Homo sapiens: one gene and its partners. The protein of the gene in region 2 purifies or fractionates together with the protein of the main gene of each other region. This does not show direct contact. Each region holds a gene or a part of one and is shown on either strand. Other genes may lie near its edges. The genes, in order: CMTR1, TMCC2, MARK2 and FKBP10.

Region 1 (7,349 bases), on a different chromosome or scaffold from region 2:
CCTGAATTCCCACTCAGGCAGTGGAGGCAGGGGAGTAACAAATGACCCTGCTGTGTCACTGCTGCTTGAGGGATTTCAGGGTGACACCAGTAAGGGTGAGATCTGACACCACGGGTGCCCATGGCAACACTGCAGCCACTGAAGAGTTAATGTAACCTCTACATAAGCACACCCAGAAGGAGACTGAGTTCTGTGAGCACCCGCACACCACTAAGAATATAAGGACGCATTTATGCCCCTTCTACCCCTCCAGGCTCAATTTCTCTCTCAGCAGCGGGAGCTGGGATTTATGGTATTTCAAGCAGCTTGCTGCTCTGCCCCTCGCAGGGCCCATCGTAACTATGACAGCATCAATGAGCCCGTATTTCTGCCTGACACAGCCCGCCTGGCTCCCTCCTGATAGGATGCTGAAGCAGCTGTCAGCTGGGGGACTCTTGACTGCAAGCAGTGCTGCAGCGAGGCAGATGAGGTGAGGGGACCGCTGGAGGCAGCTCACCACCCCCCGCCCCCGACCCATCTTATGAAACGGAGGATGACTACAGGACACGGCCGCACCCCCACCTCCTCTTGAATCTGAGCTTCACCGGTCAAGTCACTCACCTGACAAAAATCTTCTCCATCTCTTCCAGTCTGTACACCTCCTTCACCCTGCAGGTAGAGGGACAGAGACAAGACAAAGGCTTCCTGGGGGACATTCTCATCCAGGAGGCAGCTGGGAGGCAGGAGACTGCACTTGACCTTGGCTTCTGCCCCAGGCCCTCCCTGAAACCACCCAGCCCACCGGCAGCGAGGACACCAAGCCTGCCAACATGGCTGTTCTACACAGACAAGCCCTGGGTTTCAGAGCTGCCAAGCACCTCCTCAGGCCTGCGTCAGGGCAACTGGGGAGTGAAACTGGATACTGAAGACAGGAGGGAGAAAGAGGAAGAAAAGTCTGGCAGACAAAGATGTCTCTGTCAGCATTCCCACCCCCAAGTCATCTTCACCATCACCAGAGGGCAGAAAACAAAGGAGTAGGCTCTTGCCCAGGTCTGTCCACATGGATTTTAGGCCTTCCATAACAAGTTACTGCTAAACAGTCCTAATAGTCCTATTACCCACAGCGGGTGGGGAAACCCTAACAAGAATGCAGGGCTCTTGTTTGATGCCCATGCTCAGCTCTTGGGGGCCCTGAACATGTCTTTGGAACTGCTAGTGGGGAACGTTCCCAGAAATCGAGCAACCAAACCACAAGCAATGAAGGCAGGGTTCCCCCTGGGAGCTGTCTTTCAGGACCTAGCAGACAGGACATTTTAAAGTGCAGAAAGAAATTCCTTTGAAACTTTCACATGCCATCTATAAAGTGCATTCTCAATACTGGATTTAATTTTAACTAAGTAAATTTATGTTAAAAAGAACAAAAACAATGTGGATAAAGTGTAAATAGATACCTCAGTCTCCAGCCGCATGAAGCTCCCGAGAGCAGGGCTAAGCAGTGCCCTTTGGCAATAACCTCAGACCTCAGCCTACCCTGGAAAAGTGTGTCCTCCATCTGTCTCCTCCTGACTCTGTTCTCTTCCTCCTTTCTCTCTCAGGGTCCTGGAACTTTCCCACTATCTAACATTACAACCCTGGCCTCCTTCTCCCTCAGCACTGGGGGTCCCATTCCCTCAAACAATCCTTCTCTTTTTCATGTTCAAAATTCCTATTCCCTCAGCACCCATTTCTTACCTGAAAAAAAATTAAAAGGCCAGGTAATGTGCTAACAATGCTCAAGTGGGAACGGGTATTCATGAGGTGGGCTGGCACTCTCAGAAGCACGTGCATCCTAAACAAGGATGCCTTAACCCCTCAGAATGAAGTTCACCCACTGCCAGGCAGGATGGGGAGATGCTCTGGGGCAAGTCACCTACCTAGCACCCCCAAACAAACTTCATGGCAAGAATGGTCTTGTCTCTAACACCCACTTGCCTAGTGCCCTCCACTGAGCCCTCCTGTCCCTCACTGGACGGGAGCAGCAGGTACTGGCCAGAAAGAAGCATGGAGGGTAGGGACCACATGCTCACCTGATGGGATTCATGTCGGGCCGACTAGGCTTGGAAACGGCTTTCACAAATTTCTCGGCAAGCTGAATTCTACAATCCAAACAGTCTCTCTGAGAGGCAAGCCAAGGATGCCTCCACCAGCACCCCTACCCCCAGGGCATTTTCACAGCTCCAGTAGGAGAACCTTCTGAATCTGCGGCAAGACTGCTCTAAGAGGCAGCACCCATGTCCCCCAGGAAGCCCGCCCTGCCCTTCTCCACCGACGTCTTTATTCATGCCCCGCCCCTGTGGATTCTGACCTCTAATTTCACTATGTCGGTTGGTTTTCCTGAAGTGTGCCTTCAGCTGTGCTCAGTCACCTCCACTAGAACTTCAAGTATCATCTTTATTGTATGTGTCTGCCCTGTCACCCCAAAGCATGGAAACTACAGTGCACCCACTCAGATGAGCAACTTAAATGGGACCACTCAAGCACAGGATATTTCTTCCAAGGAGTACCCCCTCTACCCGCAAGGTCACCCTCTTGCTCAACCTTAACATAAATACCTCAACCTGAGCAGCTGTGGCAAAATGGAGTGTGCTGGTATCTCTGATAACCAGGGCCCAAGCCCTAGCAAACTCTGAAGTGGCAACTCCAATTCTCACCCTGACTTTGGGACCAGTCAGTGGGTGGGAGGGGGAAACTCTCAGGATGTCAACAAGCAGAGAAGGCCTAGATAAGGGGCCACACCTCGGGAGGCCGCTGTCCTCCCAAGCTGCCCTGGCCTACCCCCACCCTCCCTACCCTGGGGCCCAGGTCAGACCGCTGGTTAAAGTGCTGCTCCCGAACGTCGGTGCCATTCAGCACAAGGACATCGAGGATGTGGATGGCACTGATCTTCCTCTGGGCCTTCCCCTAGAAGGATAAGTAGGTACACTGCCCACTCTGCCAGGTGTCAGCCTTCAGCCCCCACTACCCACCATGGCATGCTGGCTCCATTCTGCCTACAGCTGGGGGAAGGGTAGGGCTCTAAATGCAGGATATTTTTCTTGTCTCCCTCCCAGCTGCTCCTCAGCATCAGACTGGCCTCGGCTTCTGAGCAGGGTAAGATCCAAGGCATTGGGTGATAAGGCCCCTTGAACCTCAAACCCAGTGAGGCTGCTGCCATGGCACTCCAGCCAGGATCTGGCTTACCCCCCTTGCCAGTTGCTCCTACTGACTGTTCTGAATGTCACCATATAGATTTCATACTCATGGCTCCTGAGAAACAAGTCTCTTGTTTCCCAAGGGATCTCTGGTCAAAAACTAAATCAGCTGCTAAAAAATACCCAGTAGACTCACCAGGGCCCTCAATGCACAGAGACAATCGAGGTCTCCTCTGACGCACGGAGACTGCGCTCCTCCTTACCTGAACCACTGTGGCTTAGAGCAACTGCTCGGGGAGGAGTCATTATAAACCCTTACCCCAGCCCTGGGCCCTGTCAGCCACCACACAATGTAACCAAGTTAACTCAGGGCAAAAGGCCAGGTTCAGCAGCCCCCTAGTCCCCTAGCTGCAGGGCCAACACCTGAGCAGAACCATCTCTGACCTCCCCTTTCAGCTCATGCACAATTTCCACAGATAGCAGAGTGTCCCGGGGCAGCTCTGTCTTCAGGTCTAGCTTGATCCAGCGGTCTGACTGGCGGCCATCCCATGTGTAGATCTGGGATTTCTACAGGCAGAGAGAAACAGCCAGGTAAGGAAGGCATGGAGATCGAGGGATAAGAGGCTTACTTCTCAAAAGAGCTTTTAGTTGGCAGCTACAAACTGATGGGACTGGGAAATGTCAGAAGAAAATGTCTATGAGAGATTAAATCCATTATACTTTAGTGATAATGATAGTAGTGTTCTCCAGTGCCTCAGCAGAAGAGAAGCAGAGATCTGGCTCAGCCTTGGAACGGGTGCAGGGCACCACTCAAAAGACCTAAGTCCATAATTAGTGGCCCTCAAAAAAGATCCAGTTTCGTATATGTCTAAGGTGGGTTTAGTGAAGAGTCCAGAGAGCAGAGAAGGAGAGAGTAAGTAAAATGAGAAAAAGACAAAGTGTGAGAGGGTACAAAAGAAGTAACTGAGGAAGACAGGATCAAATTATATAGAAACACAAGTCAAGAGTTGAAAGAAAAAGCAATGACTTTACCCAGTTAAGTAAGATAAAGAGCTTGCCAAGGCTTTCCCTCACCTCACTTTAGACTCCAGGGGGCCCAGGGTAGGGACAGGGAGTATCTTTGCAAGACAGGGGATGGGATGGCATGGGGTGGTGGTGGTGTTGCAAAGGAATGGCTGCCTGGGCTCAAGCCAGATAAGCCTGCTGACCACTCTGCTAGCCTGGGAAGCTCTGTATCACAAGAAAAGTAGCAGTGTTCCCTTTAGCAATGCACAGAATTGAAGAAACAAATGAAAGAATGAATGAATGACACTTGGCAAACTCAGAGGAAGAAAGGAAACGAAGTTTCAAGAAATACCTTCACTAGGGTCAAAGCAACAGCTACTTAATGCCAAGAGAACATGTACCAAGTGTGGCAGGCAGCTGTCCAGATTCCGCAAAGGGCAAATCCACCATTCCAAGCTGGGCAGGAAGCCAGCTGCAGACTTACCCCCAGGCCGATGAGGAACTTCTGCTCACTGCCAGATACCATGCAGCGGTAGTCAAACACAGGGCGGATCTTCTCCAGGGTTTTAGAGGTGAGCAGTGTGGGCTTGTAGCTGAAGATGTCAATCTCAGTGCCCTGCAGCCACGAGTCAGAGAAAACACTGCCGGGTTGGGGGAAGGGACAGTATGGGTGCCTATCTGGGCTGGGGGCAGGCTCGACAAGGCAAGGGACAGGAAGCATTGGCTCTCTGAAATATGCTCCCCTGCACCCCCTTCTCTACCTAACTGTGCACTAAATGGGATCTATTTCCATCTGCTTGGAATGTTCCTGTAGGACCTATTAGGAGAGGCTGGAAAAGGAAAGAACACTGAGTCCCCAAGTACAGATCAATTTACCAGACCTATAAGAAAATGTCACCAGAATATAAAAGCTGCCCCTTCAATAAAACTCAAAGCAAGGATTCTCCAGCAGTTGGTTTGAGAACAGTTTAGTGATCTCTTTACCCCATTTAGAAAAATGTACACATACTATTCTTTTGAGGGCATCTTGAACCTCAGTCTCTACTCCCTGACCCCCACAAAACCAGCACAATTGCCCATGATCTGGGACAGATTTAAATGAGGCCCAAGTAAAAGCTGGAGGTTGAGTGGTAGAAGAAACAGGGCAAAAGAACTCTGAGGACCAGCTCACCAGAAATAAGACAAAGAACCTGGGGTTAGGCCAACCCTGCTGCGGGCTTCCCTGGCAGCTCCCTTCACCCTGTGCCCAGCTCCCTTGCCTAAGATCATCCCACACTCTATGTCTCCTTTGTAGGCAAATCCCACAGGACCCTGAACTTGCCAGGGTGACACAGCCAGAACCACCCTTTGGGTGGCAGGAATGCTGAGCCCAAGCACTGAACATGAGAATCTTCCGTTGGCCTGACTGTGCTCTTGGGGAATTCAACACCCTATACCAAAGGTTCCCACCTGTGGCAGCCTTAGCTCCGCCCCTTAGAGCCCATGGTGGGCATCTGCACAAGCCCTCTGGAGACCATGCATCTGGGGCCTCAGTGATACCATCCACATCTAGAGACAGATCTCTAACTTTTTATGTCCACCACAGATACCAGTCTTACCTGGATTAGCTCAAAGAACTTCGATTTAGGGTCGGAGGAAGAAGGAGCCACACGAGCCTGGTCTGGGATCTGAAATAAGACAGCAAAGAGCTTTGACTTTCAAATGCCCTTTTGACCAAGACCGTGTATGAGTATATGCAGGTGGAGGAGATAGGGTCAGACTGGGGAGGAGGAATGGCACACAACAAAGGAGGCTAGGCTGACAGGGATGGAGGTGGATAATTCACTCACTGCTCCCTTTCAGATCCTGTGGCAATGGACCCCAAAGGCTACTTCCTTTTCTCTGGGGCTCTCTGTTGTCAGTGCTGCTACAAGGGGCCACCAGTTGCAAAACTGACACCGGCCCACCTCCCCACACCCCACCCCTTAGTCCTTTCTGACCCAGCTGCAGGGCCAAACCAGCAGTGAAAGGGCCAAGGACGTAACTACCAACAATGCCGAGATGTCAACCTCTGGGATGCTGTGAGGGTAGCAGATATTTTTGGATGCAGAGACACCCTAAGGTGACAGGATTGGGAGTCAACCCCATTCTTCTCTATGGCTTCCCTGCCCTGAAGCAGCAATGGGCGGGGGAGATACTCACCCCCCAGAGTCGGAGGCACTCCTTCCGTATCTCTGCCTGTCGAGGCTCACTCAGTGTCCTGGGAATATGAAGCCAGTTAGTGATTAAAATCTCTAAGAGGCACAGGAGTGCCCCCTGTGCACCCCTCATATCCCATAGAGAGGAGGCCTGAATGAATGAACATGTGAGTGTACACACAGACACTATGCTGCCACTGGCCCAGCGTGATTACAACACATGCAAGGCTCTCCTTTTGAAGACAGGAGCTCAAACATACACGAAATGGGATTACCTGCCCTTCTCACCACAATGGGAAAGGAGAAAGTGCCCTCCAGACGACCTGGATGCCAGGGTCCTCCCCGACACCCTTTTCAATCACCCATCAGCATGTTCTAGCTCCTCTTCTGCTGACACAGGCCACACTAAACCCATCCCACTGGATGTCACCATGCCCCACAAAGCTGAATTAGCTTATGTTCACCCCCTACCCGAGGTTTCTCTGATCAGTCCTACCTCTCCTCTCTTGATCACTCTTTACTCTGTGTCCCCTGAACATTATGTATTCTACTTGTGCCATGCCACTCTACACCCTCTGATGCACTGTTAATAACCTTTCCTGTATCCTTTTCCTGGGTTACTCTTATCTGCCCAAAGACAATGTAAAGTATTTGGGGACAAAGCTCATGTCATATGCTTCTCTGGCATCCTTCAGAGACCATAGCAGAGTATGAGAAAAAAGCAGGTGTTTTAAAATGTTTGTTGAAATGAAAAAAACAAACAGCTTGTGGGGAGGAAAAGCAAGATCTTCCCTTGAAATAGGTGGTTTCTGAAAAGTGGGCAACACTCACGTGTCTTGAACAAAGGCATGGATTTTCGCCAGAGCTTTGATCTGCAGACTACAGTGGCTAGAAGAAAAAAAAATTATTTGATCTCAGGATTACCAAAAAAGACAGGTAACTGACATCAGGACAGAGAGGTTAAACGGGAGCAGTGGCCATCTATATTTGGTGAAGGAGCTGGAGAGTTGAGAAAGAA
Region 2 (7,349 bases):
ATGGAATGGAAGGGCCCTGGCTTCAGAGAGAGGATGGGGCAGGACCTCTCCTGGTACTCAGCAGGGAAGACACTGGGGGCACGGGTAGGGAACAAAGGAACAAATAAATAAATAAATAGAACCCAACAGCACTCTCAGAGGCCTAAGGGCTTAGGGTGAGGCTCAGGGGGGCCCTGGGGCCTGTTTCCCTGAAAATAACAGATCCAGTACAGGCAGAAAGAACAGAAGGGAAAACACAGGCCACACCCACCTGGCCTGCAGAGCCCAGCCCCAGAAGGAGGCCTCAAATCAGCTCTACAGGGAGGAGGGGTGGGGTGGGGATGCTGAGCTCCACACTAGCTGCTCTGAGCCTGCTCTCTGGCCCTGGAGGTGCCCGAAGGCTAGGGACCCTCCCATCCCTGTGTTCTCTGCGGCCAGCAGAGCCTCCTCCCTCACTCTCCAGCCTTCATCCTCACCATCTCCACCAGAGAAAACCGTAGCTATCTCCGAGGTGGGCTCTTTCCTAGGAAAGTTGAGGCAGAGCCCTCTCCTCCTATTCTTAATGGTCTTCCTGACTTGGGGCATCCTGAGGGTCAGCTGGGAGAAGTCCTTGTGTAACTATAAATAATCAAAACAATCCAACCCCATGTCCACCTCTGCTCCACTTGGCCACAGGTGCCCGCACTATCTCCAGGTAGGGCTGCATTCTAAGCTCCCTTCAGGCCAACAGGGAGAAGGTGTCAGACAGAAGCAAGTACAGAGAAGGGGGCAGGAGCTGCTGGAATGGACAGTTTGGGCAGGAGGCCAAACTGGACACACAAAGAAGTCCAAGGGTCCCTCCTGGAGAAGTGTGGCCAGCTGGGGGCCAGAGAGCACAGGGTTGGTGTGGCTGGCCACTCAGCTGGGCAGCAACACGTGCTCCAGGAGGTAGGTGAGGGAGTCCCAGTGCTTCCAGAGGAGGAACAGGACGAGGACCAGGAGGGTGGTGCTGGTGATGCGCAGGCGTGTCTTCATGAGGGGCGTGATGAAGTTGGCGATGGTGGACACGAACACCAGCAGCACGGCCATGAGCGCCAGGATCACGTTGATGAACTTGCCCAGCAGCGCCCGCGCGTTGGCATTCTCCACGCCCTCCAGCTGTACCACCTGCTGCTGTTGCTGCTGCAGCTCCAGCTTGGTGACCCGGGTCAGGCAGGACTCCACGGCCTCCTGCAGGGGCAGAGGGGCTGGCATGTGTGCGCTCAGGATGGGCAGGACCCCTAGGCTGAAAACCTACCTACCCCACTGAGAAGGTGCCTATAACGAAGTCTCCTCTCCAAAGGCCAGGAGGAGTGGAGGTTGACCAGCTGCAACTGGGGTCAGAGACCTTTAAGGATGACTCTTTGGGGAGGATGCTAGGAAATGAGAGTCTTGATTACTAGGGAAGGAAAAGAGCTGGCCCAATCCCAGCTGGCTCCCTCTTGAGGCAGGCTGGAGCCTGGAAACTCCAAATACTCATTTGCGAAGCTGCCATCAAAGAGGTGGGGGGCATGGTGGCCTCTGCCCTGTGGGCTTGCCTCTGCACAGTGCACGCTGTCAGCCTCAGGCCTGTCTTGCTCACTCCACTCCGCTCCCGCTACGCTGCCCTCTTCATCCATGTGCCTATCGGCCCCGGCCAACAGGCCAGCCTGTGTCTATCATGCCCCACGTGACAAGAACCCTAACCCTCTGGCTGCTGCCAGCTCTACCAGCACATCTGGGGCCTCCCAAGGTTGCCCTGGCCATACCTGGATGTCCCGTGCCCTCTCATAGGACTGGTAGGCCACCTTCTCCTCCATGCTGGCCAGCTCCTGCTTCAGGTTCGTCATCTCGTTCTGATGAAGCTCAGTCAGGTCGTTGAGCTGCTCCTCCAGCCGCTCGTACCTGGCGGAGGGAGAGAGAGTGACACCAGTCCTGGCTCCCCGAGCTTCCACTCTCTCCCACAGTTGATTCATTCATTCTCTCAATAAACAATGACTCAGCCCATCCCCCGTGTCCAGCTCTGCTCTGTTCTAATTTTAACAGCAACAACAATAGAAGCTACTATTTACACAGCACTTCTTAGGTGTAGGCACTGTGCTAAGCATTTTACCTACATGACCTCATAGGATCCTCCCCACAATCCCATGAGATAGGTGCCAGTGTCATCTCCATTTTACAGAGGAGAAGACTGAGGCGTGGAGGCTGAGGAGCCTGCCTAGGATCACGCAGCTCATGAATGGAGGAGTTAAGGATTGGCTGACTTCAACCTGGGCTCTTAAGCCCTAGGCTCAGATGCTCTCTGGGTACCAGGGACACATGGGTGTAGAGGACACAATCCCGGCTCTGAAGGCACAAAATAGCGTAAGATGACTGTTATGTGAGGAGTGGTTAGCTTTTAGGTGGGGCTCCCCTTCAATTTTCCAAGCCTTCTTTATATATATGGAGAAGAAAAAGAGAAAGTGCTAGCTAAGGAAAAGATCCCCCCACAAGCCCAGGGAGCGAGCGGCAAGTGCTGCAGAGGCACAGAGCCAAGGGCAGAAAAGGGCAGCACAGGACCGGAGGGAGACACAGAAGGAGAGGCCGAGAGATGTCAGCTCTGTTCCAGGCTGGCCCCAGGAGCTCCGACTGGAGGTTCATGTTTTGGAAGCTATACATCCATTCACATGCTTCGACTTTACAGGTCTGGACTCATTGTATCTTTATGACCCTATGAAGAAGGAATTAATGTCATCCCTGAATTGAGGTCAGGAGATCGAGACCAGCCTGGCCAACATGGTGAAACGCTGTCGCTACTAAAAATACAAAAAATTAGCGGGGTGTAGTGGTGCGTGCCTGTAATCCCAGCTACTCAGGAGGCCGAGGCAGGAGAATCGCTTGAACCCAGGAGGCAGAGGTTACAGTGAGCTGAGATCGTGCCACTGCACTCCAGCCTGGGCGACAGAGAGACACTCCGCCTCCAAAAAATACAGAAGGAAAAAAGAAAGAAGGCTCCTTAGGGCCTCGTGCTGGCTCCTTCCAGCAGCCAGGAGGCTGAGGATGCTCCTCTGACTGCCTCCACACCCTGGGTCTGAAACCCAGTGCTCCTTGCCTCATCCCACGTCCGGCTGGGCTGCAGGAGGGGGTGGGCAGGCACCTACCTGTAGCGCTCCTCCTGCAGGCACTGGGTCATGTAGGTGTAGTCCCTCTGCAGCTGAGTCTTCAGGTCTTCCATGGAGTCCTCCAGGTGAGACTGTCCCTCCTTGATCTCCCGTAGCTCTTCCAGCAGAGCATCCAGGTTTCCAGGAGCACCATACAGTGCATTGGACTTAGGGCTCCCCAGCGCCCCACCAGGCCCAGCCCCAGAGTTGCTGCCTGCCCCGGCTGAGCTGGCGCTGGCGCTGGAGCACTCATCATCGCTGCCATACTTGGGGCTGGAGACGAGTGTGGCACTGCCGCTCAGTGCCCGGGCTGCCTCCTCAGGGGGCCCATCTTCCAGGGGGTCCTTCAGGTGGGCGATGTTGTCAGCACTGCCAAACTTGTTGCGGATGAGGCTGGCAAACTCCCGGGGCTTGGACACCACGGCGGTGTGGGTGGCCTGTGAGAGGCCAGAGAGGCTGCCCTTGACGCCCTCCACCACGCCGCCCCCAAAGCCGCTGATGCCTGCGCGCACGTTGGCGCCCACGTCCTTCAGCCCCTGCTGCATGTCCCGCAGCACGTCCTTGGGCTGCCGCGAGGGCCCGTTCTGCTCAATCTCCTTCAGGCGCCGGCGGTAGTGCTCCAGCTTCTTGTGCAGCTGGGCGATGGTCTGGGCTGACTTCTGGTTCTTCTTCTCGAACACTTGCTTGATGCGTGACACCTGCTGCTTGTCCGCGTTGTTGGCCAGTTTCAGATACTCTGCCACATTGTCGTCGCGAGCCTCCTGCTCAATCTTGATCTGCTCGGTGATCTTCAGGATCTTCTGGTGCAGGTGGTCAATGGCGGCCTTGGTCCGCTGGGGGTCCGGTGCCCCATCGGGCACGTCCAGGCTGATGGGGCCGTCGGTGTCACCATGGCCGGCGGGGAGGCTCAGGGCCACCAGGTCTCCCTTATCGACCTGGGGAAAGAGGCAGGCAGAGGAAGCATGGGTAAACCCTGGGACCATAGGAGTGCCCCTGGATGCCTCTGGACTTGGTTTTTCTATCTAGAAAATGGATGCAGGAGTCCAAAAGAAGACAACCACCACAAGAGCAGTATCCCTGACAGCCACTTACACAGGGCTTTCACATCTGCTCTCTACCCCGTCCCCACAGCATCCCCAAAATGCAGTCTAGGCAGAGCTGCTCCTCTTTTGGCCCAGAAAGGTCAAACAAGTTGTTCAGGGACACACGGCCAGGAAGGGACAGAACCTCCAGCCCAGAACTCTTTTATTTATTTGTTTGTTTATCTATTTGAGACACAGTCTCGCTCTGTTGCCCAGGCTGGACTGCAGTAGCGTAATCTCAGCTCACTGCACCTTCCACCTCCCTGGTTCAAGGGATTCTCCTGCCTCTGCCTCCCGAGAAGCCAGTATTACAGGCACCCACCACCATGCCTGGCTAATTTTTGTATTTTCAGTAGAGATGGGGTTTCACCGTGTTGGCCAGGCTGGTCTCGAACTCCTGACCTCAAGTGATCTGCCTGCCTTGGCCTCCCAAAGTGCTGGGATTACAGGTGTGAGCCACTACGCCTGGCCCCAGCCCAGAGCTCTTAAAGCTCCAGCACATGGACCAGGCAGGTCTGAGGCCTCACTGGAGTCATGGGGTTGGATTTCTGAGGAATGAGACAAATTTTCTCTCTGGACTCAACCACTTCATAAGGCTCCTGCCTTGAGCAGGCCTCTCCCTCAGGGCTGACCGCCTACACTTTGTGCCCTGCCTGCCTGCCCTCGCCACCCCATGTTCACTAACAACGCAGCTCAGCGGGCCACCCTGCCTCTGCTGACACCTCTCCCAGGCCCTCCATTACCTTACGGCTCTCCAGAGTCATTGGTAACCTTTTCCGCTTCATAATGGTGGAAGCCCCCAGTCCTTCCTAGTATCCGAGAATTGGGAGAGGAGCATGCCCCACCCCCACCCTGCTGGCCAGGTCCCCGAGGACTAAAGCCCCAGAAGTAACTCAAAGGCCAAGGGAAGCAGGGACCAGTTTGGGGGCCTGAGGCTACTAGCCGCCCAGCTTTGCAGAGGGTGAATGCGTAGGAAGGAAATGACAGCCCCCTTCACTCCCCACCAGGCGGGCAGGCTTCCCGAGTGCATCAGGGTGGCACCAAAGTCGGAGAGACAAGGAAAGGAGAAGAGAGACTAAGAAAGGATGATGGGGAGGGAGAGAAAGGAGGAAAAGGTCACAGGAGATAGGAAAGATGGGAAATGTAAGGTGGGCTGAAAGCGGGGAGGCCTGAGACCTGCTCCCCTGGTGCCTGGTTCCTCTCAGCCTGTTGGAGGATCTTTCTGTCCACAGCTGAGTCCCCAGTGTCTTATCGCCATACAACAACGGAAGCAGCAGGAAATGGCTCAACCCCATGTATTTTTACACACAGCACACCCCAAGCAAGGCTGGGTCAGATCATTTGCCCTTAGTATGTATGGGAGGGGGCAGGGGTGTGGTCAGATATATGTGGGGGAAGGGGTTAAACACAAAGATAGTGGCCCAGTCACATGCACCAGAACTGGAAACAGTCCCTGCCAATTACAGGCATAAGTCACTTGGCTTGATTCTGCCAAGGTGCAAAGTTATTGGAAAACACGATTGAAAATAATAGCCCTGCCAAACTCAGGAGCCAGGGGAGGGCGGCTCCTCTGTGGGCTTCCACTGGGGCTTTTCCAGGTTACACTTCCCCCTGGGGATGCTGTGGACAACCACAACCCCATCCCTAATCACTCCTGAAGTCAGGACTTCCCTCTTATGTTTGCTTTGGGTCTCCCCTCATCCCCCCTTGACCTCCCAGCAGGTGCTCATACCTTCAGGACTCTGCTTCTCAGAATTTCTGACCTTTCATACCCACAGTCTCCCTTAAGTGATCTGCTCCAAGGTCTTAACTGTCCCAGTAGCCTGACTTAAAACCCTAACCTGCAATTAGGCTGCTTCTTCCTGCCTTGTTCCCTGCAGTGACAGCAAAAAGCCCATCTCTCCATTTTCCTGACCTTCAGTGTCCTCGCCGACAAAAAGCGGGTAATCACAGCTACTCTCAGGTCTTTTGTGAGAGCTATACAAGATGACGTCTGGCAAGCTGGCATAGTGCGAAGCATACAGAAGGTGCTCATTAAACGCTGAATCTGAATCTAGGCAGCGTAATCCCTTTTTTCCCCTGGGAGAAAAAATGCCTGCAATCAAGCTGGCCTAAATTTATTTCAGAAATTATACCAACAAATTTACTCTGTATTGCTAGAACTACACAAAATTAACGGTTTTTTTTTTTTTATTTGTTTTTTGTTTTTTTTTGGAGACGGGGTCTCTGTCGCCCAGGCTGGAATGCAGTGGGGCCATCTCAGCTCACTGCAACCTATGCCTCCTGGGTTCAAGTGATTCTCCTGCCTCAGCTTCCTGAGTAGCTGGGATTACAGGCATGAGCCGCCACGCCCGGCTAATTTTTTTGTATTTTTAGTAGAAATGGAGTTTCGCCATGTTGGCCAGACTGCTCTTCAACTCCTCATCTCAGGGGATCCACCCGCCTCAGCCTCCCAAAGTGCTGGGATTACAAGCATGAGTCACCGCGCCCGGCCCAAAATTATGTTTTATAGGCAACACATGGCCTTTGATGTTACAGAACTTTTTTTTTTTTTTTTTTTTTGAGACAGAGTCTCGCTCTGTCGCCCAGGCTGCAGTGCAGTGGCGCAATCTTGGCTCACTGCAAGCTCCGCCTCCGGGGTTCACGCCATTCTCCTGCCTCGGCCTCCCGAGTAGCTGGGACTACAGGCGCCTGCCACCATGCCCGGCTAATTTTTTGTATTTTTAGTAGAGATGGGGTTTCACCGTGTTAGCCAGGATGGTCGCGATCTCCTGACCTCATGATCCGCCCGCCTCAGCCTCCCAAAGTGCTGGGATTACAGGCTTGAGCCACCACGCCCAGCCCAGAACCTGTCTCTCTTATAAAGCTGCTGCCCTTTCCACAGATGCCCAGCTCTCTTTCACTGTCTTCTTGGGAGAAAGAATATCTAGAAAATGGGTTCTGGGGCCAGGTGCAGTGCCTCATGCCTGTAATCCCAGCACTTTGGGAGGCTGAGGCGGGTGGATCATGAGGTCAGGGGTTCGAGACCAGCCTAACCAACATGGTGAAACCCTGTCTCTACTAAAAATACAAAAATTAGCTGGGCGTGGTGGCGGACGCCTGTAATCCCAGCTACTGAGGAGGCTGAGGCAGGAGAATTTCTTGAACTGGG
Region 3 (6,760 bases), on a different chromosome or scaffold from region 2:
GTGTCCGGGGTAGTGACCTTAGCGTGGAGTGGGGAGAGGGCAGTTGGGTGTGCTGGCTGTTCTCATTCCTCTTTCCCTTCTTTTAGCAATAAGTCTGGGGTGAGGTGGGGAGGGAGGCTGCAGGGGGGGAGGTGGGCAGAGGGGCCTTACAGCAGCAGAGGCTGGAAGAGAAGCTCTGTCTTCAGGGGCCAGCTGGGAAATGCTAAGGAGCTGAGGGTGCCCACCAAGCCCACCTTCCAGAAACTTGGAGAAATGGGGGTTGGGAACTTATGCAGACATGGATTTATTTTTCAACATTTTTTAAAAATTAAAAAAAATAAAATCTAAGCTTACTGAGTTTTCTTTCCCTTTTGGTGCAAGGGCCCTGGGCTTTGCTTCCTGTCTGTGCCCTGTGGGTAAGTGGGGAGCTGGGCCCACCCAGCACTGGCCCCAGACAGGAATCAAGTCTCTCCTGCAAGGCAGGTGGGCTAGGCCACATCTTGCCCACAGGAGACTGGGTCCCTGCCTGGCTGGGAGAAGAAACAGGAGGAGGCAGCTCAGATTCCAAACATTCTCTTTATTACGTGTTTGATCCAGAGGAGAAACTAAGTGCAGGGTTGGGGAGGAGGGGGCTAGACGGGGAGGGGCCACCTTGCCTGGGTGCCCCGGGCCCCTACCCCCTTTGGGAGCCAAGCCATGCCCTCCCAGCCCCCTCAGAGCACCCGGGCTGTTCCATAGGGCAGGAGGGGGGAAGGGAGGGAGGGGGAGCCCTTGGTCTGAGCCGCAGTAGGAGTGTGGGGCAGGAGGGCTGAGGTTGGCAAGGCCCCTTCCTAGGACGCAAGGGCTCGGCTTAATCGCTGAGCCTGGCCTGGGAGCGGGGGTGATGAAGAGGGGTGGAGTCATCATAAATCAAAAAAAAAAAAAATAAAATAAAATAATAAAAAATAAAACCCATCACAAAAAAATGTACAACTCAGGTGAGGGTAGGGGCAGCCTCTGTGTAGGACTCCCACCCCCAATTTCTCAAGAACAGAAACAGCAGAGAAATAAATTAAGGGATGCAGTGGCCACCACCAGCCAAGCGCCCCAAACCGCCCACGCCCACACTGGCCACTGAGGGTAGCAAGCTGGGAGTCGCTTAGCCTATCTGTCCCCCACCCTGTGGAGGGCAGACGCTCCCGGCCCTGCTGCCTAACTCAGCCTTCTGCCAGGTGGCCCTCGGCAGTGTCTCCTGAGAGGAGGGGGCGACAGTGTCAGGAAGAAAAGGCAAGGCTGAGAGATGAGAGTGGTGAGGGAAGTCACTGCTATGGAGAGAGCTGGTGCCCAGATTAATGCCAATGAAGGGGAAGCCATGGGGAGAGGAAGGGCGAGGGGGCTGTGCTTTCAGACAAAGGCTCCCCCATCACAGAGTGCCCAGTGGCCCTGCTCTGGAGACCAACAGCCCAAGCGGCCCCCTGGGGACCGAGAAGCCAGTCTGCCCTCCAGTCCCCTCCCCTCTCCCAGCCCTGGGGTCAGCCCCTCCTTCTACCCGGGAGGGGTGGGAGAAGATGGCACAGACTTTGAGGGAACACACGTCCCCACAGCAGCTTGTGGAAGGAAATGCCCAGCTCTGGGGAGGAGGGGCAGAGGGTACAGTGTGGAGGGAGGCGGAGCCTTGTGCCGGCCCTCCAGCCTCAGCAGCCCCGGAGCAGCCCCCAGCCCCACCCACTGCAGGGCTGCGCAGCACCCCCGCCCCCTGCCCCACCGCCCAGGCCTCCAGCCCAGGGGCCTGAGGTCAGGGGAAGGCCACCTCTGGTGGTTTGCTTGGAGGGGAAGGAGGGAGGAGAGGGGAGAAGCCCACAGTGGGCCTGGCGGAGGGCCTGACGGGAGCTCCACCACTCTTGCCTGAGAGTGTTCCAGCCCTGAGCCACCCTCCCGGGAAACCCCACAGATCCAGTCTCGACTGTCCCAATGGGGCAGGGAGGAAAGGTGGCCGCTGGGATTTTTTTTTTCTTTTTTCTTTTTGGTAATAAAAAATTTCTTGGTTTAGGCGAAATACTCTGTGCAACCGCAGTACCGAGGGGGAGCCCTGCCCCCCCATCCACCCTCCCCTTCCTTTGCCTCCAGTAGGGGAGAGGAGAAGGGGGAATCTCTGGGCAGGGGTGAATGTGGGGTGCTGGAGAACAATCTCCCACCCCCCACAAACATGTAAGAGAAAACTGAGAAGGGCCAGGGAGGGGAGAAGTGCCAGCAGGGGAGACACACCAATCCATCGCTGCAGTCTCGCCCAGGTGGGGCGGCGCAGCGGCCGGCAGCCCGTCCAGCTGGCCCGCCCCCGCCGCCCCCGCTCCTGGCAGCCTGTTAAAGCTTCAGCTCGTTGGCTATTTTGGAGGCAATGTTTTTGAAGGCCATGGAGGTGCCCGATATCCGCTTAAATCGAACCCCGTTGAGAGAGAGCCGCGGCAGTTTGCACACCTCCATCTCCCACTGCACGAAGTCCTCGTGGCCCGGCGTGCCGTGCATGCACAGCAGCATGTACTTCTCATGCAGCTCGCTCTGGCAGCTGTTCGCGTCCAGCACCTTGCGGATCTCCCGCATCATCTCGTTGGGCTCCATGGAGCTCGTGGTCTTCATACTCCACGTGAAGCGGAGGGAGCGGGGCTTGGCCTCCCGAAATTCTTCCTTTTCTTTGTCGTTGCCGCCACTGCCCACCACGTGAGGTCTGTGGAGAGGGCAGAGGCGGGCGTCACGGGGGGGCTGAGGCACCCCACCCCAGGAGAGCCACCCTGGCAGACAGCCCCTGAGCCCAGAGAGGAGAGCGGGAGGGAGCAGGAGCAGCCAGGCGTGGCCCCTGGCCTGCGGGGGCGGAGGGTGGCAGTCCTCCAACCCCCATCTCTCAGGACAGCGAAGGGGAGGAGAAGCCAGCCTTGGGGTAGGCGGGGTGGGGTCAGGGAAGACACCAGTGCCCTCAACAGCACGAGCACAGACTCTCTCTCCAGAAAGAAGCCTCCGAGCACAGGGAGGTGGGATAGTCCAGGGGTAGGAATCTGTAGCCCCAACCACCCGACCCAGAACTCCGACTTCCAGAATATACCAGACCTGAGGAGAAGGGCCCGTAACTCCTGCAATTGGGTTTGGGAAGGGGAAACTCTCTGAGGAAAGGGAGGCCCCAGAGGGTAGGGACAGGGCAGAACCACGGGAGGAAGAGCCAAGTGGCAGAAGGAAGAGAGGAGCAGGAGGCTGTGGCAAGCCCGGTGGCCCGGGCAGGGCCAGTGCTGGCTCCAGCCCTCTCACCTGAGCGTCTCCACTCGGTCTTTGCTTTCAGGTTCATTCAGGTTCCTCAAAAAACAGAGCGAGGGAGAGTTTAGTGCTGGGATCTCTCGCTCCTTCCGCCGCCACAGACCCAGATGAGAGTGGGTCTGGGGAGGTGCCACCAGTGGGTGGGCAGGACCCAAGCCCAGGGCCCTCTGCCCATCACCTGGCAAGCCAACAGGGCTCTGCAGCACCTCACACTGGCGGCTCAACCATTCCTTTCCAGCAGGGAGCCCAGCACATGGGGCTTGTCCCTCCCCACATTCCCAGATCTGTGCCGGGGAGAAGGAGCCTCTGCTCTGGGGGAGGAGGGGGAGTGGCTGTGCACGCACTTCACTGAGCACACTGAGCACACGGCCCGGCACGAGGCTGCTCCCCCACAGCCAGGGCTCACGCGCTGTTCTGGGGGTTGCAGGTGTGAGTGCGTTTTTGGAGCCACACGCTAGGGTCTCAGGACTGCAGTCCTTTTGGAGGAAAGGGGCTGCAATGCTTTGAATCTCTGTAGGAGGAGGGGCCGTGGCTACGCAAGGGCCTGTCAGGAGACTCAAAGTGCCAAGGCCTGGGTCTGCATGGTAGGCACCTGGGGATGGCTTCCTGCTGCTGAGTGGAAAAGGCGGCCTCCTCCGACCTTTCCCAACTCCCCTACCTGCTGGCCTGCCAGGCCATCTGCTCATACGCAGGGAGGATGAGGGTGGGGTGGGGCAGGGCAGGGCAGACACCTTGGTTGGGTGGGTGGGGAAGAGGTCTGGCCCCGCTGAGCGGCTTCTCCAGCTCCTGGCTGGAAGATGGGTGTCTGGAGCTAGGAAACTGGGGATTGCAGAGGAGGAAGGATATGAGAGGAAGGAGGAAGAGCAGCAGCACATAGAAATAAACAGGAAGACACAACCAACACAGGGGTGCACACAAGCGCACTGCGAGCAGGGAGCCCGGCTGTGCGAGGAAGGCACCCTCCCTGCTCTCTCCAGACCCCCTGTGGGGCAGCCCCCTGCTGGGGCCCCTTGAGGCAGCAGCCAGTCATGCAGTCAACAGCTGGGTGGGAGGAGGAGGGGATAGGGAAAGCCTGAAGACCCTGTCTGGACGTTCCTCCATCAGCTGTGGCACCAATGTGCCTGCCAGGCATCCCAGTCCCAATGCAGGGCCTGAGCAGACAGCCTTGGGGAACAAGCACTCTTAACCTGGCCCTTGGTCTTCAGCTTGGTATTTGGTCCCCGAGGCCTGCAGAGAGGATGAGCATAAGGCCAGGGGTGAAAGAGCCAGGAAGGGGACTGTGAAGGGAGACCCCTGAGTAAGGGTGCAGAGATCTCCTGTTGTTTTGCTACGGCTTGGGGTAGAATGGCCGTTGCCCTAGAATGTCCCAGCTCCCCGCACTTTGGAAGAGACAGGCCATATCTGGAGAAAACAGCCTAGAGGAGAAGAGGCTTGATTTATCCAGATGCTGCTGGTGGCAGGGGTGCTGGGGCAGGGGTGCGGGTGGGTGGGGCTAGTTCTGCAGGAGCTGCCAGGAGGGGGTGCTGTGCTCCATTTGTGAGACAAAAGCTCCTAAGGTCTGGGGGAGCCAGACTGAAACCTTGGGGCCCCAGGGTCCCCGTAGTGTCTCCAAAGTCCTGCGATCCCATAGGCCACGGGGAAGAGGTCACATAGCTCTGAAGTTCAGGAAACCCAGGAGACAACAAACAAGATACCATCCCAGATGCACTTGTAACCCTGGAGCTTCCTCATAGCGCATGCACATGACAAGGGAAAGGGCAGGAAAGGATCCCAACACTTGTGACCAAAACCTGGGGTGAGAGGGAGTGGGGGTGGGGTGGGGTGGGTGAGAGGAGACAATCTTAAAGGGAGGCTTCCCTGAGACAGTCTCCCCTTACTTGAGGACAGGCGTTAACTGTGGGCCCAAGGAAGGCCCTCATTTTTAAAGCCATTTGCCCTGAGTGGGCCAATGTGGCCTCTTAGCCCTGCCTGTTTGTACTGGGGGCACGGAGGGCAGGCCTTGTGCTGATGCCCAATCAGAGGCAGTCTTCATCCCTTTAAGATGGCAGAGAGAGGAGGGCCACACAGACTTGGTTAAGCAGATGGAGGAGAGTAAGAGCCAGAAAAGGGGAGTTAGTGATGGAGGCAGGACACAGGACACAGACACACACACACACACACACACACAGCGGGCTCAACGCCTACCTTCTGGCAAACCTGAAAGACAGATTTCTAAAAAAACAAACAAAAAAAAGACAAAATAAAAAAAGAAATAAAAAAAAAACCAACAAGACGGTATGTGGATAAGCAGGTGGGGGAGGTGGCTTTACAGGTTCAAGGGTCATCCCATTTTCGGAAGAGCCGCTCAGCGAGACTAGAGTCCCAGGCTTTCAGACCTGCCCACACTCTCTGCAGGCCTCACACTTGCATTCTGGGGCTCGGATGGGGCAGTGGCTTTGGCTCCTCCAGCAGAGTGGAGTGAAACGTAGAGGAAGGGCAGGCGAGCCTGTTCTCTCAAAGCCCCTGCTGCTTCCTGAGCTGCTACTCCAAGGCAGGGAGAGGAATGGCAGGATGGGGATGCGGAGCATCCCAGGAGGCCAGCCAGTTGGCTGGATGCACTTCAAGCTGCACCTCTGTGGTGGCTGGGGGCTCAGGTGTGAGAAACCCCGTGAAGAGATCCCCACCCTGGGTCCAACACAGGAAACCTTTGGCACATCGGAGTTAGGTTAGGGAAGAGGCCACTGTAGGCCCTCGCCAGTGATTTCATTTATAGGTTTCACCCTAAAACCCCCGGGCAGAAGGGCATGGCTGCGCCTGCAGCCAGAAACAGAACCAACTAGTGGGAGAGGCAGTCAAAGGGGCAAGAGACCAGGACAAAATTTTCCTTGCTGGCCCCAGCCTGGCTCATGCCTCATGACTTTGCAGCTGCGTCACCAAATATAAGTTTCCATGGGAACCCAGGAGAGAAGGGGGGGCTTTTATTTTAGCATCTGAGTTCACACTCTCCTAGAGAGGAGGCGGCATCGGCCATCTGCTTGGGGCCAGAGAATGAGGGGTGCCTGTGAGGAGTTGGGGAGAGGCCTAAGAGGGGTGGGCCTGGGCACATAAGGTGTTGACAAAGACCTAATTTCTTGTGCTTCCTGAAGCCTCTTCTAACCCCAGGACCCAATACCGGTACAGAGTGTCCCAAACCCCAACCCCCAACCCCCAACCCACCCCGAGTAAAGCAGGAAGGCCTGGCCTGAGCCTCTCTGCCACCCAAAGCTCCTTGCTTACCTGCGTACAAACTTGGAGGTGAACTTGCTGAAGATGCTCCCAGAGGCCCCCCGCCGGCCCTGGCTGTGGCCAGAGGGAGAGGCTGGGGTCACACCGTAGGGCAAATTCTGCTGGTCCCGCACCTGTCGGAGCTGCCCAGCATGGAAGGTGCTTCGGCTGGACACACCCCGGGGGAAGTTAGTTCGGTCTGGGGCTCCACCACTGCTGCTGATGTTGTGGGCGGATGGGGAGGCAACAGGGACACGCT
Region 4 (8,286 bases), on a different chromosome or scaffold from region 2:
GCCTGGCGACAGAGTGAGACTCCCTCTCAAAAAAAAAAAAAAAAAAAAAAGCCTATTCTAAAAGTGCCATGGCTTTTGTTTGTTTTTAGTTATACACTTTTAATTAATGTATTTATTTTTACTTATACATATGTATTTTTGGAGATGGAGTCTCGGCTCTGTCACCCAGGCTGGAGTGCAGTGGTGCAATCAGCTCACTGCAACCTCCACCTCCCGGGTTTAAGCGATTCTCCTGCCTCAGCCTCCGAAGTAGCAGCTGGGATCACAGGCATGCACCACCATATCTGGCTAATTTTTGTATTTTTAGTAGAGAGGGCTTTCGCCATGTTGCCCAGGCTGGTCACTCTTGGCCTCAAGTGATCTGCCTGCCTGGGCCTCCCAAAGTGCTGGGATTACAGGAGTGAGCCACTGTGCCCAGCCAATTATATACACTTTTAATTTATTTTAAGTTTTCAGAAGTAAAGTGAGGATGGGAGATTTTTTTTTTTTTAATTGAAGGGGCCATGGGTTAAGAAAGTTTTCTGGCCGAGCGCAGTGGCTCACGCCTGTAATCCCAGCACTTTGGGAGGCCGAGGCGGGCAGATCATGAGGTCAGGAGATGGAGACCACCCTGGCTAACATGGTGAAACCCCGTCTCTACTAAAAATACAAAAAAAATTGTGGAGGCGCCTGTAGTCCCAGCTAATCGGGAGGCTGAGGCAGGAGAATGGTGTGAACCCAGGAGGCGGAGCTTGCAGTGAGCAGAGATCGCGCTACTGCACTCCAGCCTGGGGGACAGAGCAAGACTCTGTCTCAAAAAAAAAAAAAGTTTTCTAAGTTGTGTGGGCGCGGGGGCTCACGCCTGTAATTCTAGCACTTTGGGAGGCTGAGGAGGGTGGATTGCCTGAGCTCAGAAGTTTGTGACCAGCCTGAGCAACATGGTGAAACGCCATCTCTACTAAAATATGAAAAATTAAGGCTGGGCGCCGTGGCTTACGCCTGTAATCCCAGCACTTTGGGAGGCCGAGGTGGGCGGATCACGAGGCTGGGGTGGCATGTCTGACTGTGTGACACGTAGACAGACAGGGCCTCCGCAGGGAGCCATGCCCTACCCCCAGGTCCAGCTGGCTGTCTTCTTATAATACCCACCCGCCTTTTTCAAGACCAGTCTGGCCAACATAGTGAAACCCCTCTCTACTAAAAATACAAAAAAATTAGCCGGGTGTGGTGGTGTGCACCTGTAATCCCAGCTACTCGGGAGGCTGAGGCAGGAGAATCACGTGAACCTGGGAGGCAGAGGCGGAGGTTGCAGTGAGTTGAGATTGCTCCATTGCACTCCAGCCCAGGCAACAGTGTGAGACTGTGTCTCAAAAAACAAAAACAAACAAACAAACAAAAATTAGCTGGGCGTGGTGGCATGCGCCTGTAATCACAGCTACTTGGGAGGCTGAAGCAGGAGAATTGCTTGAACCCAGGAGGTTGCAGTGAGCTGAGATGGCACCACTGCACTCCAGCCTGGGCGACAGAGTGAGCCTCCAGCTAAAAAACAAAAAGTTTTCCAAGCTCAACACTCATGAGCTGGGCTCCCAGAGTCCCCATCAGGGATGACATCCCCTAAATCCCAACCCCTGCCTCACTCCTAGCAGTCAAGGGCTCAGGGCTGCACTTCTGGCTACTACCCTATATCTGAATTTGCCCACCAAGCAGACAGGTTTTAAGTCTGGACTGTTTCCTTCTCAGTGTTGTTATGAAGGCTTAAGCTCTGCATTAAGTTTCTACAAGTTCCACAGCATCAGGTCATATGGTTTTCCTCAGGGTCAATGTTAATGTGTGCTGAACTGGCTGGAGGACTGCCAGGCCCTGTGAGAAGCCTACGTTCATTCATCCATGTCCTTGGAGTCCTAACATCAGCCTTAGCAAGTAGGTCCTGTTTTTGTCTCCACTTTTCAGATAAGGAAAGTGATGCCTAAAGAGACAAAATTCTCTGTCCATGGTCATAGCCTGGATTTGAACCAGGGTCTTGGGACTCTTGGAGTTTGTAGGCTTACCCCAATATATGCCTGCCTCTAAAGTCATGGCCACTAATTTCCTGTGGGCTGAGTTGTGTGTTTCAGAGGAGGGTCTAAGAAACACTGACTTCTTTCAGTGTGCTGTGGGGTCTGTGTGTAACTGGGACCCTAGATTTACCCCTGAGGCTGGCATACAGCCCTGCCCTGTCCCCGCTAACAAAAGTGGACTTGCTGGGGCAGACCAAAGGCCTGGGTCAGACCAGGAGGCCACCTTACAAACCCCAAGGCTGGCAAAAATGGGCGGCCTGTGCCTCTGGCCTGGTGTACCTAAAATGGAGAGAGATGAGGGTTCCAGGAGAACCAGAGAGGGAGGAATGAAATTCCTCCAAGGAGCCCAGGGTGGCATGTCCGACTGTGTGACACGTAGACAGGGCCTCCGCAGGGAGCCACGCGCTACCCCCAGGTCCAGCCGGCTGTCTTCTTATAATACCCACCAGCCTTTTTCCCTGCCCACCAGCCGCTGAAAACTCCCACCCCCTCCAAAAAAAAGTTCTATTCCCTCTTCTCTGACCACAAAGGCACTGAAAACAGTGGAACCAGAAGGGGAGTCAGGGTGGGTGGAAAGGTACGGGGTCCAGGCTGATAGACCATCCCAGGGTTCTTAAGCAGCAGGGACCACCCCCTTCCCCCCAACACTGTAGATCAGAACACCCCTCTCCATCAGGTCATTACATACAGCCCTGGTAACTACACAAGGCAGTTCACCTTGATTATCGAGTCCTTTCCGGGATGTGGAGAGCTTGTGAGAAAGAAATGGGATCCTTTGAGAAGTGAGGGTTTGGAAGTGGGGGCAGGAGGGTATCTTTGGGGAGATGGGTGTCTGGGAGGCCCCAGGGGTGCTGTCTAGGGTTAGAGTATTGGGATGCAGAGCTTAAAAGAGGCAACAAGGAAACAGGACCCCGGGTTCAGGGGACGGAGTGGTGAATCCGGGGGCGCCCAACCGGGGTTACCTTGAATCAAACTTCTTGCCATCTTCAAAAGTGCCGTTGTAGTGGTAGCGCACAAAATCCCCCATCTGCACTTCCCGGGGACAGGCCCTGGGGATGTGGTACCTCTCGATGACCACATCTTCCAGGGGGCCCCCGGCCGGGCTGGCGCGGCCCAGCCCCCTCCCCACGGCCTGCACCACCAGTAGCAGCAACTGCAGCAGGGGGAGCCGGAGGAGGCTGTGGCTGGGGGGGCCCGCGGGGAACATGGTGCCTGGAGTTGGGACCGCCGGCAGTGAGGGCGAGCGAGGGAGTCGCCACCAACCTCCTTCCCCCCGCCTCCCAGAACTGGCTCCCCCTCTTCCTGTCCTCTTTCCCTACCCCCGCCCTGGCTGGTCCACGTGGAATGGGGGCTGGGAAGACTGAGCTGGCCTGGCCGGGAGGAGCGGGGGAGGGGGTTGCAATAGGAGGAGGGGGCCAGGCTGAGTGTGTTAGAGTCTGAGGGAGGCACTACAAAGAACTCTAGGTTCCCCCTCCCCCCATCTCCATCCCTGGCTGCGAGACCTGGGGCCTGGCCAGGGAGAGAGGCTCGGGAAAGATGAGAACTCTGAGTGGACACCAAAGGAAAAAAAAAAAAAAAAGTTCAATGACTTTTTCCGGAGCCCCCGGGTCCTAAAGCCGGGCGGAGATGAACCTTGCTTCTTTCGCGGGCACTTCGAATTCTAGTCCCCTCCAGGTGGGTGGTGAAGCCGCGGAGTGTGAGAGGCATCTCCGTGCTCATCCGTGACCCCAGCTGTACTCCAAGGGAAGGCATCTCCAGGGAAGAGCAGCTTGGTCCCGCAAAAGCTGGACTGAAAGAAGGACTTTGTGACTTGGGATGTGACGGGCACGGAGATGGAGTGGGGGGTGGTGGCAGCGCAAGGTGTGCAGGTGACAGCAGGTGTGTGCCTCCGACGTGGGCGGGGGAGACACTCGGAGGGTGCAGGAGGGCGCAGCGACGGAAGGCCCGGCTCCAGGGCTTCCTTCTCGTATGGGCAGCGCAGAGGAGGCGGCCCTCACTCAGTGTCCTGATCTCAGGCGGGGGCACTGTTTGCATGGGGAGGGGCTTCCTGGGCTTCCCATCTCTGGCGGGAAGCGCTCCCCGACGCATTCTCTACCTAGGGGACACCCCCAAGGCAGGAGCCCGGGCCGACGGAGAGGACTTAACGACACTATCGGACCCTCTGGGAAAAGAGGGGAGACGTCGTGACCCAGGCCCCGCCCCACCTTGCCGCCTCGTGCCCGGCGCTAAGACCCAGCGGGCGCGCCGCCCGCCCGGGGCCCGGCCCTGTCCCCTTCCGTCCGCGGGGCAGCCAGCTCAGCTCCGGAGAGCCGGCGGCGCGGCGGGCATGGCTCGGGTGGCGTGGGGGCTGCTGTGGTTGCTGCTGGGCAGCGCCGGGGCGCAGTACGAGAAGTACAGCTTCCGGGGCTTCCCGCCCGAGGACCTGATGCCGCTGGCCGCGGCGTACGGGCACGCTCTGGAGCAGTACGAGGGAGAGAGCTGGCGCGAGAGCGCGCGCTACCTGGAGGCGGCGCTGCGGCTGCACCGGCTCCTGCGCGACAGCGAGGCCTTCTGCCACGCCAACTGCAGCGGCCCCGCGCCCGCGGCCAAGCCCGATCCCGACGGCGGCCGCGCAGACGAGTGGGCCTGCGAGCTGCGGCTCTTCGGCCGCGTCCTGGAGCGAGCCGCCTGCCTGCGGCGCTGCAAGCGGACGCTGCCCGCCTTCCAGGTGCCCTACCCGCCGCGGCAGCTGCTGCGTGACTTCCAGAGCCGCCTGCCCTACCAGTACCTGCACTACGCGCTGTTCAAGGTGGGAGCCCGCCCCCACCCGGGGACCTGTCTCGGGCTGGGCGTCGTGGCTCCCCACAGATCGGTCGAAGGAGCGTTATCTTCACCCAAGGCACGAAGCCCGCCGTGCGCTCGGGGCCGCGAGCTCCGGTCTTGCTGACCCGCTCCCCCACCCCCTACCCCCCGACCAGGCTAACCGGCTGGAGAAGGCGGTGGCGGCGGCCTACACCTTCCTCCAGAGGAACCCGAAGCACGAGCTGACCGCCAAGTATCTCAACTACTATCAGGGGATGCTGGACGTCGCCGACGAGTCCCTCACGGACCTAGAGGCCCAGCCCTACGAGGTGGGGTGGAGGGTCAGGAGGAGGCTTGTAGAGGAGGGCTAGTAGAGGAGGGGAGATGTTGGGGGCGCCCTGACTCCCCCTGCCACGCCCCTTCCAGGCCGTGTTCCTCCGGGCTGTGAAGCTCTACAACAGCGGGGATTTCCGCAGCAGCACGGAGGACATGGAGCGGGCCTTGTCAGAGTACCTGGCAGTCTTTGCCCGGTGCCTGGCCGGCTGTGAAGGGGCCCATGAGCAGGTGGACTTCAAGGACTTCTACCCGGCCATAGCAGGTATCTGCCACCCAGACCACGGTGGGCGGTCCTCTCACCCACAGGGCCCGGTAAGGCAGATGTCCCCTTCATGCACGTGGAGCACTGCGAATGCGGAGGAGCCAGCCGGGAGGAAGGCCTTGTCTGTTGAGAAAGACGCTGGGTGCAGGGGCCCCAGCTGGGAGTGTCCAAGGGGCTGGATCAGTGAGTAGAGGCAGTGACATCCCTAAAGGGTTTGGGAAGCTTGGGTTCATAGGCCTTCCAGGCAGAGGGCAGTGCAGATGCAAAGGTGCAGCGGTGAGAAGTAACCCAGCAGATGTGTGCAGAAAGCAGTTGATAACCAGAAATTACACCTAGTCTTGGGATCTCTAACCCTGGGGTCCCTCGAGCAGGGGCAGAAAGGACTGTACTTGGCCAGGTGTGGTGGCTCACACCTGTAATCTCAGCACTCTGGGAGGCCGAGGCAGGCAGATCACGAGGTCAGGAGTTCAAGACCAGCCTGACCAACATGGTGAAACCCCGTCTCTACTGAAAGTACAAAAATTAGCTGGTCGTGGTGGCGGGCACCTGTAATCCCAGCTACTCGGGAGGCTGAGGCAGGAGAATCGCTTGAACCTGGGAGGCGGAGGTTGCATTGAGCCCAGATCGCGCCACTGCACTCCAGCCTGGTCGACAGGGCGAGACTCTGTCTCAAAAAAAAAAAAAAAAAAAAAAGACTGTCCTTTAGCTTCTCTGTTTGGACTTCTGCCCCATTTCTGGACCTCACCTGCTGCTCTCCCAGAATGCCCTGGCTCCCTCTGGCTTGGGGTGGTGGTTGAGTGGCAGGGGTGGTGAGTCAGCCCAGCCCACAGTCATCTTCCTCACCATCACTTGTCATATAGTATGCCAAGCACTTTACAGACATTCTCTCCTGTGATTGCAACAGCAACACATTTTCTGGACAAGCAGCTTGGCTTAGTAGGCAGAGATTGGATTTAGAGTCTTCTCCACTGGGGGGACGGAGATGTTCATTGCAATGCCAGCCTCTCACTGCTGCCTCCCACCCTCAGATCTCTTTGCAGAGTCCCTGCAGTGCAAGGTGGACTGTGAGGCCAATTTGACCCCCAATGTGGGTGGCTACTTCGTGGACAAGTTCGTGGCCACCATGTACCACTACCTGCAGTTTGCCTACTATAAGTGTGAGCCCCCTGGGTGGGCTGGCTTGGGCAGGGGACGAGGTGATAAGGGAGAGGACTGTATGGGAGCCTCCCAGAGTTGTGGGGAGCTTTCCTTCAGTATTGAGGACCCTGGGTGATAGGAGGAAAGTCTAGGGGTGGTGGGAATATGGGGAAGGCACCCTGGGAGTCTGGGGCAGGTGAGAGGCTTCTGAGTGAGAACAGACAGCAGCCTCAGGGAGAAGAAGAGGGTCTTTTGGGCAAATGACTAGACAACCAACAACTGCAGAGCACTTGACAGTTTATTTTTATTTTTGAAACGGAGTTTCACTCTTGCCCAGGCTAGAGTGCAGGGGCACGATCTCGGCTCACTGCAACCGCTGCCTCCCGGATTCAAGTGATTCTCTTAGCCTCCTGAGTAGCTGGGATTATAGGTGCCTGCCACCACACCCAGCTAGTTTTTGTATTTTTAGTAGAGACGGGGTTTCACCATGTTGGCCAGGCTGGTCTTGAACTCCTGACCTCAGGTGATCCACTGCCTCAGCCTCCCAAAGTGCTGGGATTATAGGCATGAGCCACCATGACCGGCCAACACTTGAGAGTTTATAAGTCACTTTATCTTATGTGGTCCTTTCACCAACACCATGCAGCTGGCATTACTGGACCGATTTTTCAGATGGGGAAACTGAGGCTTATAGGGCAAGGGGCTGTTGGTCTTATGACTAATAAAAAGTGGCACCAGGACTTGTGGCTCTCCTCACTGGAGAGATCCTGGCATCCACTGGGGCTGGAATGGACAGCCTCCAGTGTTCCTGCAGCTCGGAGATGCCAAGATTCAGACAGAGCCAGGAGTCAGAGCAGAGGGGCTGAGAACCCAGGGGCCAGGAGACCCTTCCTGGGTACACATAGCAGAGAGGCTAAGGGCCTCTAATTCACTAGAGCCATCATTCTCCAGCTGTGTGAGCTTGAGCAATTTATCTAACCTCTCTGTGACTCAGATTTCTTGACTGTAAAATGGGGATGACAGTAATAGGTAGGCATGGCTGGGCACAGTGGTTCACACTTGTAATCCCAGCACTTTGGGAGGCCCAGGCAGGCAGATGGCTTGAGCCCAGGAGTTCGAGACCAACCTGGGCAACATGACAAGACCCCGTGTCTACAAAAAATACAAAAAGTTAGCCAGGCATGGTGGCGCGTGCCTGTAGTCCCAGCTACTGGGGAGACTGAGGTGGGAGGATTGCTTGAGCCCAGGAGGCAGAGGCTGTAGTGAGCCGAGATCACACCACTGCACTCCAACCTGGGTGACAGAACAAGACCCTGTCTCAAAACAAACAAAAACATACAAAAAATTAGATGGGTGTGGTGGTGCCTGCTTGTAATCCCAGCTACTCAGGAGGCTGAGGTGAGAGGATCACCTAAGCCTGGGAGATCAAGCTTGAGGTGACCATAATTGCACCACTGCACTCTAGCCAGGGTGATAGAGTGAGACCCTGTTTCAAAAACAATAAAAAGACAATAACAGTGAGGCTTAGATGAGTTAGTCAGGGCCTGGCATAGGGTAAGTGCCCACTACATGCTAGCTGGCATTATGCTTGGGTGGGATAAGGAGCCCATTAGGTATTCTGGGAGGTGGCTGGGTAGCAGGGGTGCTGGACTGAACTGGAAGATGGAGTTGACTCTGAAGGGGAAGTGCCAGAGCAATTCCTCACCCCTGTCCTGCTGCAGTGAATGATGTGCG

The links.
Region 1: the proteins of TMCC2 (region 2) and CMTR1 purify together in Homo sapiens (affinity purification with mass spectrometry; 2 studies listed by BioGRID and IntAct, with this or other methods). This does not show direct contact.
Region 3: the proteins of TMCC2 (region 2) and MARK2 purify together in Homo sapiens (affinity purification with mass spectrometry; 2 studies listed by BioGRID and IntAct, with this or other methods). This does not show direct contact.
Region 4: the proteins of TMCC2 (region 2) and FKBP10 purify together in Homo sapiens (affinity purification with mass spectrometry; 2 studies listed by BioGRID and IntAct, with this or other methods). This does not show direct contact.

Annotation. Positions count from the first base shown.
Region 1 is NC_000006.12:37,470,891-37,478,239, reverse strand, and holds part of CMTR1 (cap-specific mRNA (nucleoside-2'-O-)-methyltransferase 1), read right to left. Parts: intron 7,220-7,349; coding exon 7,163-7,219; intron 6,394-7,162; coding exon 6,336-6,393; intron 5,822-6,335; coding exon 5,753-5,821; intron 4,771-5,752; coding exon 4,639-4,770; intron 3,717-4,638; coding exon 3,594-3,716; intron 2,920-3,593; coding exon 2,828-2,919; intron 2,115-2,827; coding exon 2,046-2,114; intron 649-2,045; coding exon 601-648; intron 1-600. UniProt on the Homo sapiens protein: S-adenosyl-L-methionine-dependent methyltransferase that mediates mRNA cap1 2'-O-ribose methylation to the 5'-cap structure of mRNAs.
Region 2 is NC_000001.11:205,265,652-205,273,000, reverse strand, and holds part of TMCC2 (transmembrane and coiled-coil domains protein 2), read right to left. Parts: intron 4,052-7,349; coding exon 3,117-4,051; intron 1,882-3,116; coding exon 1,746-1,881; intron 1,206-1,745; coding exon of another isoform or gene 1,189-1,205; coding exon 877-1,188; 3' UTR 1-876.
Region 3 is NC_000011.10:63,904,797-63,911,556, reverse strand, and holds the end of MARK2 (serine/threonine-protein kinase MARK2), read right to left. Parts: coding exon 6,514-6,760; intron 5,470-6,513; coding exon 5,443-5,469; intron 3,298-5,442; coding exon 3,253-3,297; intron 2,681-3,252; coding exon 2,320-2,680; 3' UTR 537-2,319; downstream 1-536. UniProt on the Homo sapiens protein: Serine/threonine-protein kinase. Involved in cell polarity and microtubule dynamics regulation. Phosphorylates CRTC2/TORC2, DCX, HDAC7, KIF13B, MAP2, MAP4 and RAB11FIP2. Phosphorylates the microtubule-associated protein MAPT/TAU.
Region 4 is NC_000017.11:41,807,992-41,816,277, reverse strand, and holds the start of FKBP10 (peptidyl-prolyl cis-trans isomerase FKBP10 precursor), read right to left. Parts: upstream 3,275-8,286; 5' UTR 3,244-3,274; coding exon 2,999-3,243; intron 1-2,998. Other genes in the region: P3H4 (endoplasmic reticulum protein SC65), read left to right, coding at 4,363-4,824, 4,994-5,146, 5,244-5,598, 6,444-6,572, 8,274-8,286. UniProt on the Homo sapiens protein: PPIases accelerate the folding of proteins during protein synthesis.